Regions from separate parts of the Homo sapiens genome. Here region 1 is linked to region 2. The links come from fine-mapping of genetic effects on gene expression. A gene starts in region 2. The other region holds a variant in brackets. All regions are shown on one strand. Distances are from middle to middle.

Region 1 (8,653 bases), 590 kb before region 2:
GCTAAGGTAGGAGGATCACTTCAGCCCGGGAGGTGGAGGTTGCAGTGAGCTGAGATTGTGCCACTGCACTCCAGCCTGGATGACAGAGTGAGACCTTGTCTGAAAAAAAGTTACAATGAGCTATGATTGTGCCACCACATTCCCACCTGGGTAACAGAGCCATACCTTGTCTCTAAAAAAATAATAAAAAGCAAGTAAAACTGCGTCACTGAATAGCATTCTGGATTTCTTTTACATGCAGCTCCTGGGGGTCCACCCATCAGTCCTTCTGGAAGCTCTCACCCACAGAAAAATTGAAGCCAAAACTGAGGAGGTAAAAATGGCTATAGGTGGAAATGTGCCAGCCCTCCCTGCTGCTGCTGCCTCCCTCGATAACAGCAGGGTGGTGGCCTCAGGGGAGGCCAAACCTTTGATCCTAGCTCACCAGGCCCTGCGTGGTCCAGCTCCTGTGGAGTGTCCTGCCTCATCTTCCCCCATCACCATCACCACCACCACACCAATGCTAGCAATCCACACCTCATACTGTCTATGTCTTCCCTCCACAGGAGTCTTTGCACATGCTATTCCTTCTGCTGGAACACTGTTCCCGGTGCTTTATCTAGTTAACTCCTCTTCATCCTTCATTTCCTGGGGGTCACTTCCTCAAGGAGCCTTCTCTGATCCTCCCACCTCTACGTCAAAGCACCCTATGTATCTCTTGTAGCCCTTTCAACATGACTGTGATTCTTTGAATGTCTCTCCATCCCTCCCTACCCTCAAATGAACTGTGTGCCCATGAAGGTCAGGACTGTGTGTCTGGGTTACAGCTGTATCTCGGCAGCCCAGCACAGTGCCTGGCACACATGGGCACTCAAGAAAGAGCCATCATATGAACCAAAGACAAGAGTAGCATCTTCCCAGCATGTATCCTTTGCCAGTCATCATTAAACACTAGTTCAAGACTGTGTGTGGTGGCTTATACCTGTAATCACTTTAGGAGGCTGCAGTGGGAGGATTCCTTGAGCCCAGGAGTTCAAGACCAGCCTGGGCAACATGGCTAGACCACATTTCTACAAAAAAAAAAAAAAAAAAAAAAGCGAGGCATGGTGGTGGGCACCTGTAGTCCCAGCTACTGCATTCCAGGCTGGGCAGCAGAGCGAGACCCTGTCTCATTATTTTATTTTTTTTTTAAGAAAAAAGACTTCTTTGAACACTCTGGGGGCTTCTTTTTTCCACCTATAATGATGCACCTTGTCATTCTTTTCAGGTGATCTGCCCGTTGACACTAGAACTCTCTGTCTACGCTAGAGATGCAATGGCAAAGGCTGTTTATGGACGAACGTTTACTTGGCTGGTCAACAAAATCAATTCCTCCTTAGTTAACAAGGTTGGTCAACGCATTTTGGATCCCTTGCTCTTGCTCACGTGGTGATGTTTTATAATCATCGTTTCTTTAAAGAATTTGGGAGGGAGAATGAACTGTGGGCGCCTCATGGGCAGAGATGGTGTCTTTCCCTATTCACATTTCCCATGTCTAGCATACAGTATGGGTGCATGCCGAATGACTTATACAATGTGTTCCAAAGCGTGCTGTGCATAGTGCTTGTGGTATGCCAGATAGCTTCAAGTGTACACAGAAACTTTTTATTTTTTATTTTTATTTTTAGAGACAAGATCTTGCTCTGTCACTCAGGCTGGGGTGCAGTGGTGCAATCATAACTTGCAACTTCCAGCTTCTGGGCTTAAGCAATTCTCCTACCTCAGCCTCCCAAATAGCTGGAACTACAGTTGCATACCACCATGCCCTGCTAATTTTAAAAAAAAATTTTGTAGAGATGAGGTCTTGCTATGTTGTCCAGGCTGGTCTCAAACTCCCAGGCCCAAGCCATCTTCCCACTGCTGCCTTCCTAAGTGCTGGGATTACAGGCATGAACCACCACAAATCTTTAAATTTCAACAGTAATATATTCACCTGACATTTTAAAAATTTCAACAGAAGCATATTTTAACATATTTACGAAAAAATATAGCCCTTGAAACTCACGCTTCAGTCACGTTTCCTTTTCAAGTGGAATTATTTAAATAAAAAAGGGATTTAATCCAAGCTAAAAATTAAGAAATGATACATGGATGGGGAGGGGATATGTGGATGTGACAAAATTCATGGAGGTAGGACACAAAAGATGATTTTGGAGGCAGTGACTTAGGACACTCATACAGAGTATTTAATTGTGTCCCTTTAAAACTAAATAAATACATTATCTCTTTTTTATTTTTTTTTGAGACGGAGTCCCACTTTGTCGTTCAGGCTGAAGTGCAGTGGCACAATCTTGGCTCACTGCAGCCTCCACCTCTGGGGTTCAAGCGATTCTTGTGCCTCAAACTCCCAAGTAGTGGGATTACAGGTGCATGCCACCATGCCTGGCTAATTTTTGTAATTTTTTAGTAGAAATGGGGTTTCGCCATGTTGGCCAGGCTGGTCTCAAACTCCTGGCCACAAGTGATCCGCCTGCCTCAGCCTCCCAAAGTGCTGGGATTGCAGGCGTGAGCCACCACGCCTGGCCTGAAATAAATACATCATCTTTAAATACCCACCCTGGCCTGAGGGTACTTGGTCCTCTTACTTGGATAGGCATCTTCTTGTCTGTCTATAGGTCCTTTTCTCCATCTCCTTCTCCTTCTTCTTCTCCTTCTTCTTTTTCTTCTTCTTCTTCTTCTTCTTTTTTTTTTTTTTTTTTTTTTTTTTTTGATTGTACATGGGCTTGGGAGGCTGAGGACACCTGAACAAAGAAGTGAATCAGAAGGGGAAGGTCTGACTACACAGGTGATGGCTATGGAAGCTGCAGTGGGATCTGAGCAGGCAGGAGCAGCAGGCTGGGGAAATTACTTCCACCCAAAGATTTTCCGCATTGTTGGAGACAGAGGACATATGAGCTTTAGCGCCAAGTCCCAGTTTAGGGGAGCAGCAACAGTTTTGAGTAGCACAAAGGAAAAGACCTAACTATGAATGGGGTGTGTTATTTTGACCAGGATTTCACCAGGAAAACTGTAATTGGATTACTGGACATCTATGGGTTTGAAGTCTTTGACAAGAATGGGTATGTTTTGTCATTACCTACCTATCTGTCTTTTGCCCTTTTTTAAGATTTCAGTCGAGATTTAAATCTTTCGCTAATGTTACTAGATTGATTTCCCTGTCCCCAGAAAGTCTCTAGATTTACATAGTTTCTAACTCACAGACCATCCTAGATGTGGACTAACCATAAAAATGCAAATATATTTTCACTTGACTCTTATGATCTATTTAGTAAATTATTTTATTAATGAGGACTTTGCTTTTTCTTTATTAAAAAGTATGCCTAAAAAGAATATAATTTGTTTAAAAAAATTGTTCTCTTCATATAACTTTAGTTACTTAAATCTTTTGTATCTCTAGTTTTGAACAGTTCTGTATAAATTACTGCAATGAGAAACTCCAGCAACTGTTAATTGAGAGGACTCTAAAAGCAGAACAGGCAGAATATGAAATGGAAGGCATAGAGGTAAACATTTTGATGTTTTCTCCTCATCTGATTTCTTCATCTAGCTAAAGACTTCTTTTTTTAATTTAATTAATTTTTTTTTTATTTTTTTGAGACAAGATCTCACTCTGTCGCCCAGGCTGGAGTCCAGTGGCACAATCATGACTGGTTGCAACCTCCACCTCCTGGGCTCGAGTGATCCTCCTGCCTCAGCCTCCTAAGTAGCTGGGATCACAGGCACATGCCACCATGCCTGGCTAATTGTTTTACTTTTTGTAGAGACAGGGTCTCTCTATGTTGCCCAGGCTGGTCTCGAACTCCTGGACTCAAGTGATCTTCCTGCCTCAACCTCCCAAAGTACTGGGATTACAGGTGTGAGCCACTGTGCCCAACCACTAAAGACATTTAACTGAAGTATTATTTCATTGGAGATATTCCTGATTAGTACTGAGGATTAATTTTTAGGCCTTCTCTGCTTATTTCCTGGGAAATTATTTTGATATTCAGAAAATATAATTTGTTTAAGGTTGAATATAAAAACTAGATTTTGAAAAAAGATGTTTTAGAAAACCAATTTAAAACCAACTTTGATGCTCATCTAAATATTTCTTGGAGAATTCATTCCTCTTTGTCATTTTAGTGGGAGCCAATTAAATATTTCAACAACAAGATCATCTGTGATTTGGTAGAAGAGAGACATAAAGGAATCATATCTATTCTGGTGAGAAAAATGAATGTTGCATTAGAGCTATTCACCCGGCACTTACAACTCTTGGAAGAACTTTTTCCCAGGCTTAAAAAGGGTTGAGCCAGGCCAGGCACGGTGGCTCACGCCTGTAATTCCAACACTTTGGGAGGCCGAGGTGGGTGGATCACCTGAGGTCAGGAGTTAGAAAGCAGCCTGAACAGTATGGTGTAACCCTGTCTCTACTAAAAATACAAAAATTAGCCGGGCATGATGGCATGCGCCTGTAGTCCCAGCTACTTGGGAGGCTGAAACAGGAGAATTGCTTGAACCCCGGAGGCAGAGGTTGCAGTGAGCTGAGATCATACCACTGCGCTCCAGCCTGGGCGACAGAGGGAGACTCCATCTCAAAAAATAAAAATAAAAATAAAAAAAGGGTTGAGCCAGGGTGGTCTCTAACTCCTGGGCTCAAGCAGTCCTCCCACATCAGCCTCCTGAGTAGCTGGGACTACAAAGGTATACCACCACA[C/A]CTGGCTAAATTTTAAAAATTTTGTAGAGACAGGGTTTCACCATGTGCCTGTGCTGGTCTTGAACTCCTGGGCTCAAGACATCCTCCCACCTTGGCCTGCCAAATGCCAGGATTATAGGTGTGAACCACTTCACCCAACCACACCTGTAATTTTTAAGATGCCAACTAAATGGTATCATTCTTGAGGACGAAAAATAGGAAATAGAAAAATGAACTTAAGAAATATAAAAACTTCGACTTAACTGGTTTTATACCTTTCTTTCCATGAGGGCTTTTCTTCTACAACAAGAGTCTGTACACATGGTAATCATGGTCAGTGATGACTGGTTTAGAGAAAACGAGGTTGGTCATAGTAGCTGTGTGGAGTATCCTTGGGAAGACTTTGAGTCAGATGGTCAGAGTGTTGCCTTTTCATGGGATATTCAGGCCCTCTGGTTCCATGGTCCCCTTATCAAATCTTAGAAGCCAAACACATGGATTAAGCCCTTCTTCCCCCCAGAATGTTCACCTGCACTTACATGAATTGACAGTCTTTTAGTCCAGTACTTTCTGTTCCAGCTGGTGAAAGCATTTAAACTTGGCATTGATGGAGTGTGGTGCTGTGGATTGAGGCTTCTCTTTTTCTTTTGAAGGATGAAGAATGCATTCGGCCTGGTCCTGCTACAGACTTGAGTTTCCTGGAGAAATTGGAAGAGAAAGTGGGCAAACATGCACACTTCGAAACGTACATACTTTATTTTACCAGATTTTGCATGGGGGAAGATGATTGTGTCTCCATTTTCTTTAGTATTTGGATAATGTTCTTCAAGAGAACAACTACTTCATACATAAAAATATCTTTATGTATACCACTCATAGATGTGCCAGACCTTTGTTAGTAGAAATTAAACCTAAATGAATTATAATTTTTTTTTGAGACATGGTCTCAGTCTGTCACCTAGGCTGGAGTGCAGTGACGTGATCACAGCTCACTGCAGCCTCAACCTCCCAGGCTCAAGTGATCCTCCAACCTCAGCCTCCCAAGAAGCCAGGACTACAAACATACACCACAATGCCTGGCTAATTTTTATATTTTTTGTAAAGACAGGGTTTCACCCTGTTGCCCAGGCTGGTCTGGAACTCCTGGCTTCAAGCGATCCACCCATCTTGGCCTCCCAAAGTGCTGGGATTACTGCTGTGAGCCATCGTGCCCAGACACAAGTATGATTTTTTAAAAAGATTTTATATCTTCCTTTATTCAGTGATCATTATATTTTGGACATGTCTATGTACATGAAATAATCTTTTCAAAAATTCAGGTATAAAATACAGTGATATGTGTAGATCTGAAATGTACAACCTGATAAATTTTTGTACTTGTATGTGCCTGTGTAACCACCATGCGGATCAGATATAGAGTACCACATCCCACAAGATCAACTAGACATTTAACTTAGTCTTTGAGGTAAGCAGGAGAGAATTTAAGAGCATATGCTGGAGTCATTAAGACCTGGTTTGTTTGCTTGTTTCTTTTTTGTTTTTTGGTTTTGTTTTGTTTTGTTTGAGATGGAGTCTCACTCTGTTGCCCAGGCTGGAGTGCAGTTGTGCAATCTCTGCTCACTACAACCTCCGCCTCCTGGGTTTAAACGATTCTCCTGCCTCAGCCTCCCAAGTAGCTGGGATTACAAGCACTTGCCACTACGCCCGGCTAATTTGTTGTTGTTGTTGTTGTTGTTGTTGTTATTATTATTATTTGAGACAGAGTCTTGCTCTGTTGCCCAGGCTGAGTGTAGTAGGGCGATCTCGGCTCACTGCAACCTCCACCTCCCGGGTTCAAGTGATTCTGCTTCAGCCTCACAAGTAGCTGGGACTACAGGTGTGCGCCATCACGCCTGGCTATTTTTTTGTATTTTTAGTAGAGGTGGGCTTTCACCATGTTAGCCAGGCTGGTCTCGAACTCCTGACCTCAAGTGATCTGCCCACCTCAGTGTCCCAAAGTGCTGGGATTACAGAAATGAGCCACCATGCCTGGCCCCAAGACCAAATGAATGCTCCTGCATTTGTGTTTTCCCTGCTATACAAGATGGGGGTTATTAACATACCTACCATCCAATTTTGTAAATGATGCCATAAATTGCCTAGTGCAATCTCTGGCCATGGTAAAGACTTAGTAAATGGTGGTGGCTTTCTCAGACCTGTTGTAGAATACTGAAAGGATATAAGTAAATGAAATTGCAAAGGATAAGTACATGAAATTGCATAGTGAATCAAGAATGGAAAAATAAATTGGGGTACATTCACAAATGGAATAATATATCACTGTGCAATGAATAATCTATAACTGCATGCAATGATGTAAGTAAATTACACAAATGAGTACATACTGTGGCCGAGCGTGCTGGTTCATGCCTATAATCCCAGCACTTTGAGAGGCCGAGGCAGCTGGATCACCTGAGGTCAAGAGTTCAAGACCAGCCTGACCAACATGGTGAAACCCTGTCTCTACTAAAAATACAAAAATTAGCCAGGCATGGTGGTACACGCCTGTAGTTCCAGCTACTCAGGAGGCTGAGGCAGGAGAATCGCTTGAACCTGGGAGGTAGAGGTTGCAGTGAGCCGAGATTGCGCCACTGCACTCCAGCCTGGGCAACAGAGCAAGACTCCATCTCAAAGAGAAAAAAAAGGACTACATTCTATATAATTCCATTGCAATGCAATGCATACAACTGGGTAAAAATTCACTTATGCTGCTACATGTCTGGTTGCGACTAGAAAGGGCTCAAAGTGGGGGTTCTCAGGGACTGGTAATGAATGCTCTGCTTCTTAATCTGGGTGCTGGTTGCACAGGCATATCGTTTTCAAAAATTCATTGAGCCGTACGCTTAGAATATATGTGTGCTGTCAATATGTATGACAGATTTAAGTAAAAGTCATTTTAAAAAATCAAGAATCTGGCCAGACACAGTGGCTCACACCTGTAATCCCAGCTGTTTGCGAGACCAAGACGAGTGGATAATCTGAGGTCAGGAGTTCAAGACCAGCCTGGCCAACATGGTGAAACCCCATCTCCACTAAAAATCCAAAAAATTAGCCAGGTGTGGTGGCTTACGCCTGTAATCCCAGCTACTCAGGAGGCTGAGGCAGGAGAATCGTCTGAACTCAGGAGGTGGAGGTTGCAGTAAGCCGAGATCACACCACTGCACTCCCGCCTGGGAGACAGAGTGAGACTCCATCTCAAAAAAAAAAAAAAAAAGAAAGAAAAAAAAAATCAAGAATCTGTAGAAACTGAAAACTGATGTTTTATGAGTATTTTAGTCTCTCAACATTATAAAAATATAAGATTTAAAATTGTTCTTTGTTACATCACCTAGAAAAACAAAAGTTAATTTATTATGCAAATACATGTGTTTCTGTGGCTCAGTTCTATACTTTTATTTCTCAGCATTTATGGGAAGAAAGGATCTAATTTTATTTTTTTATTTTTTGAGACAAGGTCTCACTCTGTTGCACAGGCTGGAGTCTAGTGGTATAATTATAGCTCACTGCAGCCTCAAATTCCTGGGCTCAAGCAATCCTCCCACCTCGGCCTCCTGAGTAGCTGGGACTACAAGGCACATGCTACCACTCCCAGCTAATTCTTTGTATTTTTTTTTTAAAGACAGGGTCTTGCTGTGTTGCCCAGACTAATCTCAAACTCCTGGCCTTAAACGATCCTCCTGCCTCAGCCTCCCAAAGTACTAGGATTATAGGTGTGAGCCACCATGCCCGGCCAAAGGATCTAATTTTAAAGAAATCTTGGTCTATGGCCAGAAAATAAGTAACAAAACTTCCTGGGAGCCTCCCTGTGTGGTGGCTTTCAATGTGGACCTAACTGATTGAAGACGTCTCTCTCTCACTCTTTGCTTCAGTTATTGGTGCCATTTTGTCTCAGTGAAGTAGAAAGTTCAACTCATGGGCCAG
Region 2 (8,653 bases):
CCCCCGTCACCTCCCCAGTTGGCCTAGGACGGAGGGAACGGGAGGGAACGAGAGGGAAGGGAGGGCCGCGAGGGACGGGGAGGGCGGCGGCCCCCTGCCCGCCCGGCTCTGACAGGCCCGGGACGGTTCCCACCCCAAGGCCGCCCAGGGACCTCTTCGTTGCGACCCTAGCCGCGGGATGCAGCCTGACCTGAGGGGGCGGCCCCGGGGTAGGGGTCCGGGCCAGGAAAGCAGAGGGGAGCGGGCCCGGCCGGTGCGACTCACCCGGCCCGCTGCAGTCAGCGCACACCTCGCTGCTCCGGAGCCGTTTCGACATGGCTCCCACCTCCCACCTGCGGGGAACTAGAGGCCGGGGGACAGCAAAGGCGGCGGTGGCGGCGGCGCTTCCGCTCTAACGGGTCCCAGCTGCGGCGGCGCTGACGGCGGCGCCTCTCCCCTCAGCGCCTTGCAGCCTTGGCACAGCACGCACGCGCGGGGAGGTGCCCTTCGGCGAGTGTCAGGTCATGTGACCGGAAAGGGCACTCTGCCTTGTCGCCATCTTGAGTGAGGGCAGGAGACTGCCCGAGTATCATCTGTCCTACCTTTAAATATTGAATTTGGGTCTTCTTCTCTGGCAGAGATTCCCCTCGTCCCAACTGATTAATACCAGGGGAAGTAGCAATATCTTGTGATGAGAACCCTGCAGCCACAACCTTCCTGAGGCAATCAATGGTCAAGTTCATTCATTCATTCCTTGATTCAACAAATGTTTATCAAGCACTTACCATGCTTTATATACTGTCCCAGCCACTGGAGAAACAGCAGTGAGCAAAGACTGAATTTCTAGTCCTTATGAAGCTTGCATTTTACTGGGGTAAAGTAAAATAAGAATATATTATATGATTCCAGGCTGGGCGTGGTGGCTCACTCTTGTAATCTCAACTCTTTGGAAGGCTGAGGCAGGAGGATCACTTGAGGCAGGAGTTCGAGACCAGCCTGGGCAACATGGTGAAACCCCATCTCTACTAAAAATACAAAAATTGGCCGGGCGCGGTGGCTCACGCCTGTAATCCCAGCACTTTGGGAGGCCGAGGCGGGTGGATCACGAGGTCAGGAGTTCAAGACCAGCCTGGCCAACATGGTGAAACCCCGTCTCTACTAAAAATACAAAAATTAGCCGGGCACAGTGGCAGGAGCCTGTAATCTCAGTTACTTGGGAGGCTGAGGCAGGAGCTTGAACCCAGGGGGTGGAGGTTGCAGTGAGCTGAGATCACGCCATTGCACTCCAGCATGGGCGACAGAGTGAGACTCCGTCTCAAAAAAAAAAAAAAAAAAAAAAAAATTAGCCGGGCGTGGTGGCGCATGCCTGTAATCCTAGATACTCAGGAGGCTGAGGCATGAGAATCGCTTGAGCCTGGGAGGTGGACGTTGCAGTGAGCAGAGATCGCGTCACTGCACTCCAGCCTGGGGGACAGAGCGAGACTGTCTCAAAAACAACTTCAACAACAACAACAAAAATAACAAAAAAGAATATATTAGATGATTCCTTAGGCTTCAGTTTTAATCTCATGTTCAAAATTAAGATAATGCATTGTTTACTTCTAGTCCACGATTTGTTTTTGTATGGCTTGCTACTTAAGAATGATTTTTACATTTTTAAAGGGTTGCGAGATGAAAATGAAGAAGAGAGAGAGGGAAATAAAGAAAAAGAGGAAGAAGAATATGCGACAAAACTTGTATGTGACCAGCAAAGTTAAACATTCATTTTGGCTAAGGACAGATGGAATAAATTATGGGAAAAATGTGATACACCTGCTGGATAGTAACCCCTCAGTAAATAGTAGCTCCCATAATTATGGATATTGCTATTATTTTCTAATTACTGTTTTTCTTCATATGCGTGGAATTTGAGAATAACAATAGCTAACATGGGATAATTTACAAAATGGTGTGAGATAAACACAATGAAATGAGGTAAATCAGTGTGAAGGAGAAAGGAGATGTGACCCTAATACCAATGACTACTTATTGTCTGTCTTACATATAAACACAGCTATGATCTCCATTCAGCAAATATTGAATGCCTGTTGTTAGCCAGGTACTATTTTGGTTTTAGATACTCTGGTAAGCAAAACGATGTGGTTCCTGTCATTATGGGGTTTTCTGATTAATGAGATAGGGAGATTTTCAATAAACACGGCATGATGAAGAAGAAGGAGAACGTTAAGTTGCAAAAGGCATCTGAAAGAATGAGAAGTGCTGGAAAAGGCCTCAGAAGCACTGGTCTTGAGTCCATCTCTACAGTGTGATAAATGTGTGATGGAGAAATAATCACAGAATTCCCACGCATTCCATGGTTAGAGTCTCCGGGTGCCATCCTGGTGCTCCTGCATCCTGTTTTGGTTTAACAACTCACAAATCTTCTGGGCTCCACATCTGTGGAGAATGGATTAGGTTGGGATTCTTGAACAGCTGTTGTTGCAGGCATCTGAAGAGCTGGATGTGCATACACTCAGAGGGCAGAGGGAATGTTTTCACAATGCATTAAATAGCTTCATCCAGCTATGTGGTCTAGTTGTAGACAGCTGAGCTGAAGCAGCAGCAGAAAGTTCAAGCCCATGAGTAGCTAGCTGTAAGTTGATTTGGTTCTTCATTGAGTCAAGGAGGCATAGTGCCTGAAACTCAAAGAATAAACTTCATATTCGCAGACTGTGGTCAAATATGTATATTATTTATCAGTCCTTTCAGCCATAACCTCAAATCCAAAAAGCTAGCTTAAAAATGACATTCATACATGGACTAAATCACCACCATAGTTAGCTATTGAATCATAACCCGGTTCGGAGTTCAAATAGAAGCGGTTCTCAACTGAGGACGATTTTTCTCCCCGAGACGACATTTGGCAATATCTGGAGAGACATGTTTTGGGGAGTGCTACTGGCATTGAGTGGGGAGAAAGACCAGGGCAACTGCTCAGCATCCTACAAGGACCGGACAACCCCCACACAAAAACTGCCCAGTTCAATATGTGCCGAGGTTGAGAAATCATGAAGTAGAAATATCCCCTTTTATGCAAATACTGTATTTGAAGCCACTTCGCCAGGGTTTAGCGTTCCTCCTTCAAAAATTGTCCGGTGTTGCCCACTTCCAAAATGGCTTTTGACCCGTCGTGGAAGCATCTGTCCTGCTCCAAAAAGGCTGCAAGGGTGTCGGCAGCTGGAATGGTTTGGTCCGGGGCTCAGTTGTCACCCCCTGACTTCAGAGCCAATGGAAGAGGCCCAGTTGTGGACCGAACCACATGGGGCTACTGGAGCAGGGGGAAAGAAGCTGGGGACAGGTAGACGGAACTTTCCGCGTGGAGATCTTTGGCCAAGAGAATGAGCCTCAGCTCTGTTCTGTGGGCTGCACTGAGTTTCTCGGTGTGAGCTGGAGGTGGGTGCAATGGCGCGGACCCCGGACCCGGTGCCCAAGGTCGCCTATCCCCGCCGCGGCATGCGGTGGTTCGCTCTCCGCACTTCCCTGTTTGGGGCAGTTAGGTCCGCAGAAGTCTGTCCGCGAGCTGTCAGCGCGGGCGGGAACGCCGCGGGGCGCGGGGTGGGCGCGGCCGACCTGGTCCCTGAGCCGGCCGGCGACCCCGGACCTCCCGCGCGCCCCGCACCCGACCGGCTCAGCCGGCCGGCAGCGTAACACGCCCTACGCTCGCTTGCTCGCCGGCCTCAGGGCAGGCAGGCGGGCGCGGGAGACCCCGCCGGGGCCGAGACTTGGGGCGGGCGACGAGGACCAGGTTACGGCCTCCTCGCCATGTCCTCGGCCTGCGACGCGGGCGACCACTACCCCCTGCACCTCCTAGTCTGGAAAAACGACTACCGGCAGCTCGAGAAGGAGCTGCAGGGCCAGGTGAGGGGCGGGGCGGGGGTCCGTCTCCCGGTGGGGACTTCGGGGAATCGGGGGTCGTTTCGCCTCCCTGAGCCCATTTCCAGCCCTCTGTCCCCGGGATCCCCAGACCCCTTCCACTTTGCAGGTGTGGGACAGTCCTAATAATAGGACACGTATCGAGTGCTTACCGTGCGACGGGCTTTTTAAATATCTTCTCTCTTCACCTTTCCAATAACGCTGGTGGGTAGGTACTGTTACTTTTCCACTGGACAGAGAAGGAAACAGGTCCTCAGACGCTACGTGCCTTGTGCGAGGCCGCCCCGCTGATAAATGCCAAGTCGGGATTTTAACTCGGGCCGGCTGGCTCCGGAATGCACCGTCTTAACCATTTTTAGGTTCTGCTGCCTCAAAGACGTAAGAATAGCACACTCTCCTTGTTGTAAGGAAGGGCTTGGTTGGTTTTGGAGTCCAGGTTCTAACTCGCCCTGTGACCTTGGGCAAGGCATTTTCCCTCTCTGGCCGACGTTAACTTAGCTGTAGAATGAGGATGTTGGTGCTGGGGCAGAACCCAACACTTGACTCTATTGATAGGTCTGGGGTGAGGTCCAGGTGCCGCATTTTTAACAAACTCCCCAGGGAGGCTGATACCTAGCAAAGTTTGAGAATCACGGGTTCTCAGGCTCCTTAAAATCCCTTCCTGTTCTAAAGTGCTTTGATGCTTTAATCTTTTCATTATTGCTATCTCTTTAAAGCAGTAGTGCTCTCAGTTGGAGGTGATTTTGCACCCACGACCCCCCGGGGACATTTGGCAATGTATGGGACATTTTTGGTTGTTGAAAGTGGGGAGTGGGTGCTTCTGGTAGTGGGTAGAGGCCGGTTATGCTGCTCAACATCCTACAATGGCCAAGACAGCCCCCCGCAACTAAGACTTCTCCGGCCCCCAAAGCCGACAGCGTCTTGGTTGAGAAACTCTGCTTTTCTTTCTTTCCTTCTTTTTTTTTTTTTTTTTTTGAGACTGAGTTTCGCTCTTGTTGCCCGGGCTGGAGTGCAATGGTGCGATCTCGGCTCACTGCAACCTCCGCCTCCTGGGTTCAAGCGATTCTTCTGCCTCAGCCCCCCAAGTAACTGAGATTACAGGGATGCACCACCACGCCCGGCTAATTTTGTATTTTTAGTAGAGATGGGGTTTCTCCATGTTGGTCAGGCTGGTCTCAAACTCCCGACCTCAGGTGATCCGCCCGCCTCAGCCTCCCAAAGTGCTGGGATTACAGGTGTGAGCCACCACGCCTGGCTGAGAAACTCTGCTTTTAAAGTCTCCCAACAATTCTGGGAGGTATTGGTGCCCTCAAGTTTCAAGCTAACAAACTTAGCAGTTAGGATGAGGATTTGTGATTACCCCTGAAATCTAGTATGGTTGTTCTTGTTGACTTCATACATTTTATCCAGTGTCTTACAGACCTGGTTTTTGAATGGCTCAAAATTGGTGCTATAATTGTCAAGAAATTGTAGAGGAAGAGGAGGATTGTTTGTCTTATGGTTGACAAAAATTGAGAAGGTTAGCATTACTCCATTTGGTGAATGGGTGCTGCAAGCTGTGTGCTTGCAACCTGCCATATTTAAGGTGGTTGAGCCCTCACCGAAGTCCAAAATTACCCTCTTTTCTTTTCTGTTTCTTTTTTTTTTTTTTTCTTTTTGAGATGGAGTCTCGCTCTGTCATTCAGACTTGAGTGCAGTGGCGCGATCTCAGGTCACTGCAACCTTCGCCTCCCGGGTTCCAGCGATTCTCCTGCCTCAGCCTCCTCAGTAGCTGGGATTACAGGCTAATTTTTGTATTTTTAGTGGAGGTGGTATTTTGTCATGTTGGCCATGCTGGTTTCAACCCCTGGCCTCAAGCAATCCGCCCACCTCTACCTCCCAAAGTGCTGGGATTACAGGCATGAGCCACTGTTGCCGGCCTTTTTTCATTTAAAAAGAATTCCAGATACGATAAACTTTTGTGAGAGTCATCGTTCTTAATTAGATGACAGACCAACTATTTAAGAGTTAAGGAGATATGACACATGCCCTCAGACTAAATGATTCACCATTAGGCATTTTAGTATACTGATCATTTAATTCCTTTTCTATTACTAGACATGGTACAGAGGTAAAAACTGTAAGACTCAGCTAGGACACTTTAAAAATGACCAGTTTTGGTTTTTAGGAATCTACTTCTTTTGGTGCCCAGGCTGGTCTTGAACTCTTGTACTCAAGTGATCTGCCCGCCTCAGCCTCCCAAAGTGCTGGGATTACAGGCATGAGCCACTGTGCCTTGCCCAAATCCTGTATTCTTAACCCCTACTATACTTCTTTCAGTAAAAATGACTTCATTTCAAGATTATGGAGAATAAATAAGGAAGATAATGGACCTGAAAGTGCAGGCATATGGTAATTGGAAACAATATTTACTAGTAGCTGCTGCTATTATAATCATCATTTGTAAACCTGGGGATTGAGCTTTTTTGCTCTATATTCCAGTTTTTCTGCAAGGAAGATGTATTGATTGCATAATTAAAAACAAAAAATTCTTAAGTCCGGGCACGGTGGCTCATGCCTGGAATCTCAGCACTTTGGGAGGCTGAGGCAGGCAGATCGCCTGAGGTCAGGAGTTGGAGACCAGCCTGACCAACACGGTGAAACCCCGTCTCTACTAAAAATACAAAAATAGCTGGATGTGGTGGCACGTGCTTGTAATCCCAGCTACTCAGGAGGTTGAGGCAGGAGAATCGCTTGAATCCAGGAGGCTGAGGTTGCAGTGAGCCAAGATCGTGCCACTGCACTCCAGGCTGGGAGACAGAGCGAGGCTCCGACTCAAAAAACAAAAAAAACCCAAAAAATTCTTATCACCCCAGCAATAAAGTGGCTGTTTCCCTTAATGTTTTGTTTGCTGGTGAGTTTCTGCTGTCAGTTTCCTCATTCCGTCTATCACCTGATTGAGACTTGGAGCATGTATACTGATAGCTGTAAGAATTTTTTTCCAGGTTTTTTGTTCCTGTTCCAGGAACAGCAACACAAGAAAGAATCAAGTTTATCCAGATGAAGAGGATAAGCACGTGTTTCTGTGTGTGTGAGCCAGCCCCAATCCCACTGTCTCACTAATAGCAGGCAGTTGTGTAACTATGCCAACTACCAGATTGTTTCAGGCCTTCATTTGATCAGCAGAGGCATTTAATAAAGTGCCTCTTAACCCATCAGCTCATTAATATTCAGTGGGGCCTTGAAGTTGGTTGCTGAAGTTGAAACTGTTTGTGTTCTGCTTATGTCGTTGGCCGCTTAGCTAAAGAAGTCTGTTAAACTTCTTTGGCCTTCTTACTGATGGTGAGACATGAACACTTAAGGGGACAGATGCAAAGGTGAGTCAGTGTACCTTAGACAGGGTTGGAAAACCTGGGTTGTGTGAGGTGGAGGGTGGCAAATGAGGCCTGACTCTAGAGCCAGGCTCCCTGTTTAGGAAGCCAGCAGGTGAAAAGTATAGCACCTAGGTAAGAGGAGGACATTCCTGGGGTTCTCACTCCAGCCTGGGGCAGGCCAGGTGAGGCCCCGGGCACAGATTCAAATCGCTGAGCCATGGGCTAGGCATCCAAGATGAAGAGCCTAGAGCCTGCTCTCCTCATGTGCCCCCTTGGTCATCGGGGGTTCAAGCTCACCTTAGGAAACTGGCCTCAAGATTCCTGTTTCCACTGACTCAGCGTGGGGGCCACACAGGACCAGGATGGTCTGAGAGTGAAGAGGAGTGAGGGTGGTTGTCTGTGTTGAGAGAGAGGAGGACTAGCCAGCAGCCTCTTGCTGGAGTCCCCCTAAAGGTGACAGTGAGTTTATGAAGCACTTCCTGCATGCCAGGTACCAAGGCACAGGGGAACTGATAATTCACCTGAGGCTAGTGGGCAAGCTGGAAGGGGTGTCCAGTTGTCTGGTTCTGCAGCCTGGCCTCAGAGCTCGGCAGGAGGATGGCAAGATAGTAAAGAGGGCTTTTGATTGAGGAGGCTGAGGTGGGGTCAGTGCTTGAGGACAGGAGTTCAAGACCAGCCTGGCCAATATAGTAAGACTCCGTCTCCTTAAAAAAAAATTTTTTTTGGCTGGGCACGGTGGCTCACGCCTGTACTCCCAGCTCTTTGGGAGGCCAAGGCAGGTGGATCATGAGGTCAGGAGTTCAAGACTAGCCTGGCCAACATAGTGAAACCCCATCTTTGCTAAAAATATGAAAAATTAGCTGGGCATGGTGGCGGGTGCTTGTAATCCCAGCTACTTGGGAGGCTGAGGTGGGAGAATCGCTTGAACCTGGGAGGCGGAGGTTGCAGTGAGCCAAAATCGCACCATTGCACTCTAGGCCCGGCAACAGTATGAGACTCCATCTCAAAAAAAAAATAAATTTTTTTTAAGGCTTTTGAGCAAGAAAAGTGGATGAGCTGAAATGAGCAAATAGGAAGGAAACTCCTAGTTAAAGGAGGATGGGTATTTTTATTTGGGTATAGCTCATGGCTAAAGAAACTTAAAAGGAAAACCTAAATGATCAGTTTCGAAAGTGAATTCCAGCCGGGCGTGGTGGCTCAGGCCTGTAATCCCAGCACTTTGGGAGGCCGAGGTGGGCGGATCACCTGAGGTCGGGAGTTCGAGACCAACCTGACCAACACAGAGAAACCCCGTCTCTACTAAAAATACAAAATTAGCCAGGCGTGGTGGTGCATGCCTGTAATCCCAGCTACCCGGGAGGCTGAGGCAGGAGAATTGCTTGAACCTGGGAGGCAGAGGTTGCAGTGAG

Evidence for each region. PIP is the estimated chance that this variant, and not a neighbour inherited with it, causes the effect.
Region 1: its variant is the best candidate, but not a certain one, in a credible set for the expression of ANKRD13A in testis (GTEx, PIP 0.90).

Annotation. Positions count from the first base shown.
Region 1 is chr12:109,406,548-109,415,200 of GRCh38, forward strand. It overlaps MYO1H (myosin IH), which reads left to right. Exons shown (of 32, transcript NM_001101421.4): 9 at 242-313; 10 at 1,247-1,366; 11 at 3,010-3,077; 12 at 3,416-3,521; 13 at 4,141-4,221; 14 at 5,347-5,438. Among named protein-coding and RNA genes, the nearest start is that of LINC01486, 51 kb to the left of the region's middle. The variant C/A (reference allele first, on the strand shown) is at 4,715.
Region 2 is chr12:109,995,909-110,004,561 of GRCh38, forward strand. ANKRD13A (ankyrin repeat domain 13A) reads left to right here and starts at 3,522. Exons shown (of 15, transcript NM_033121.2): 1 at 3,522-3,876. The coding sequence starts at 3,781. It overlaps GIT2 (GIT ArfGAP 2), which reads right to left and starts at 460. Exons shown (of 20, transcript NM_057169.5): 1 at 265-460. The coding sequence starts at 316. RefSeq lists silencers at 111-200, 3,516-3,635, 3,646-3,735 and enhancers at 471-630, 3,246-3,435.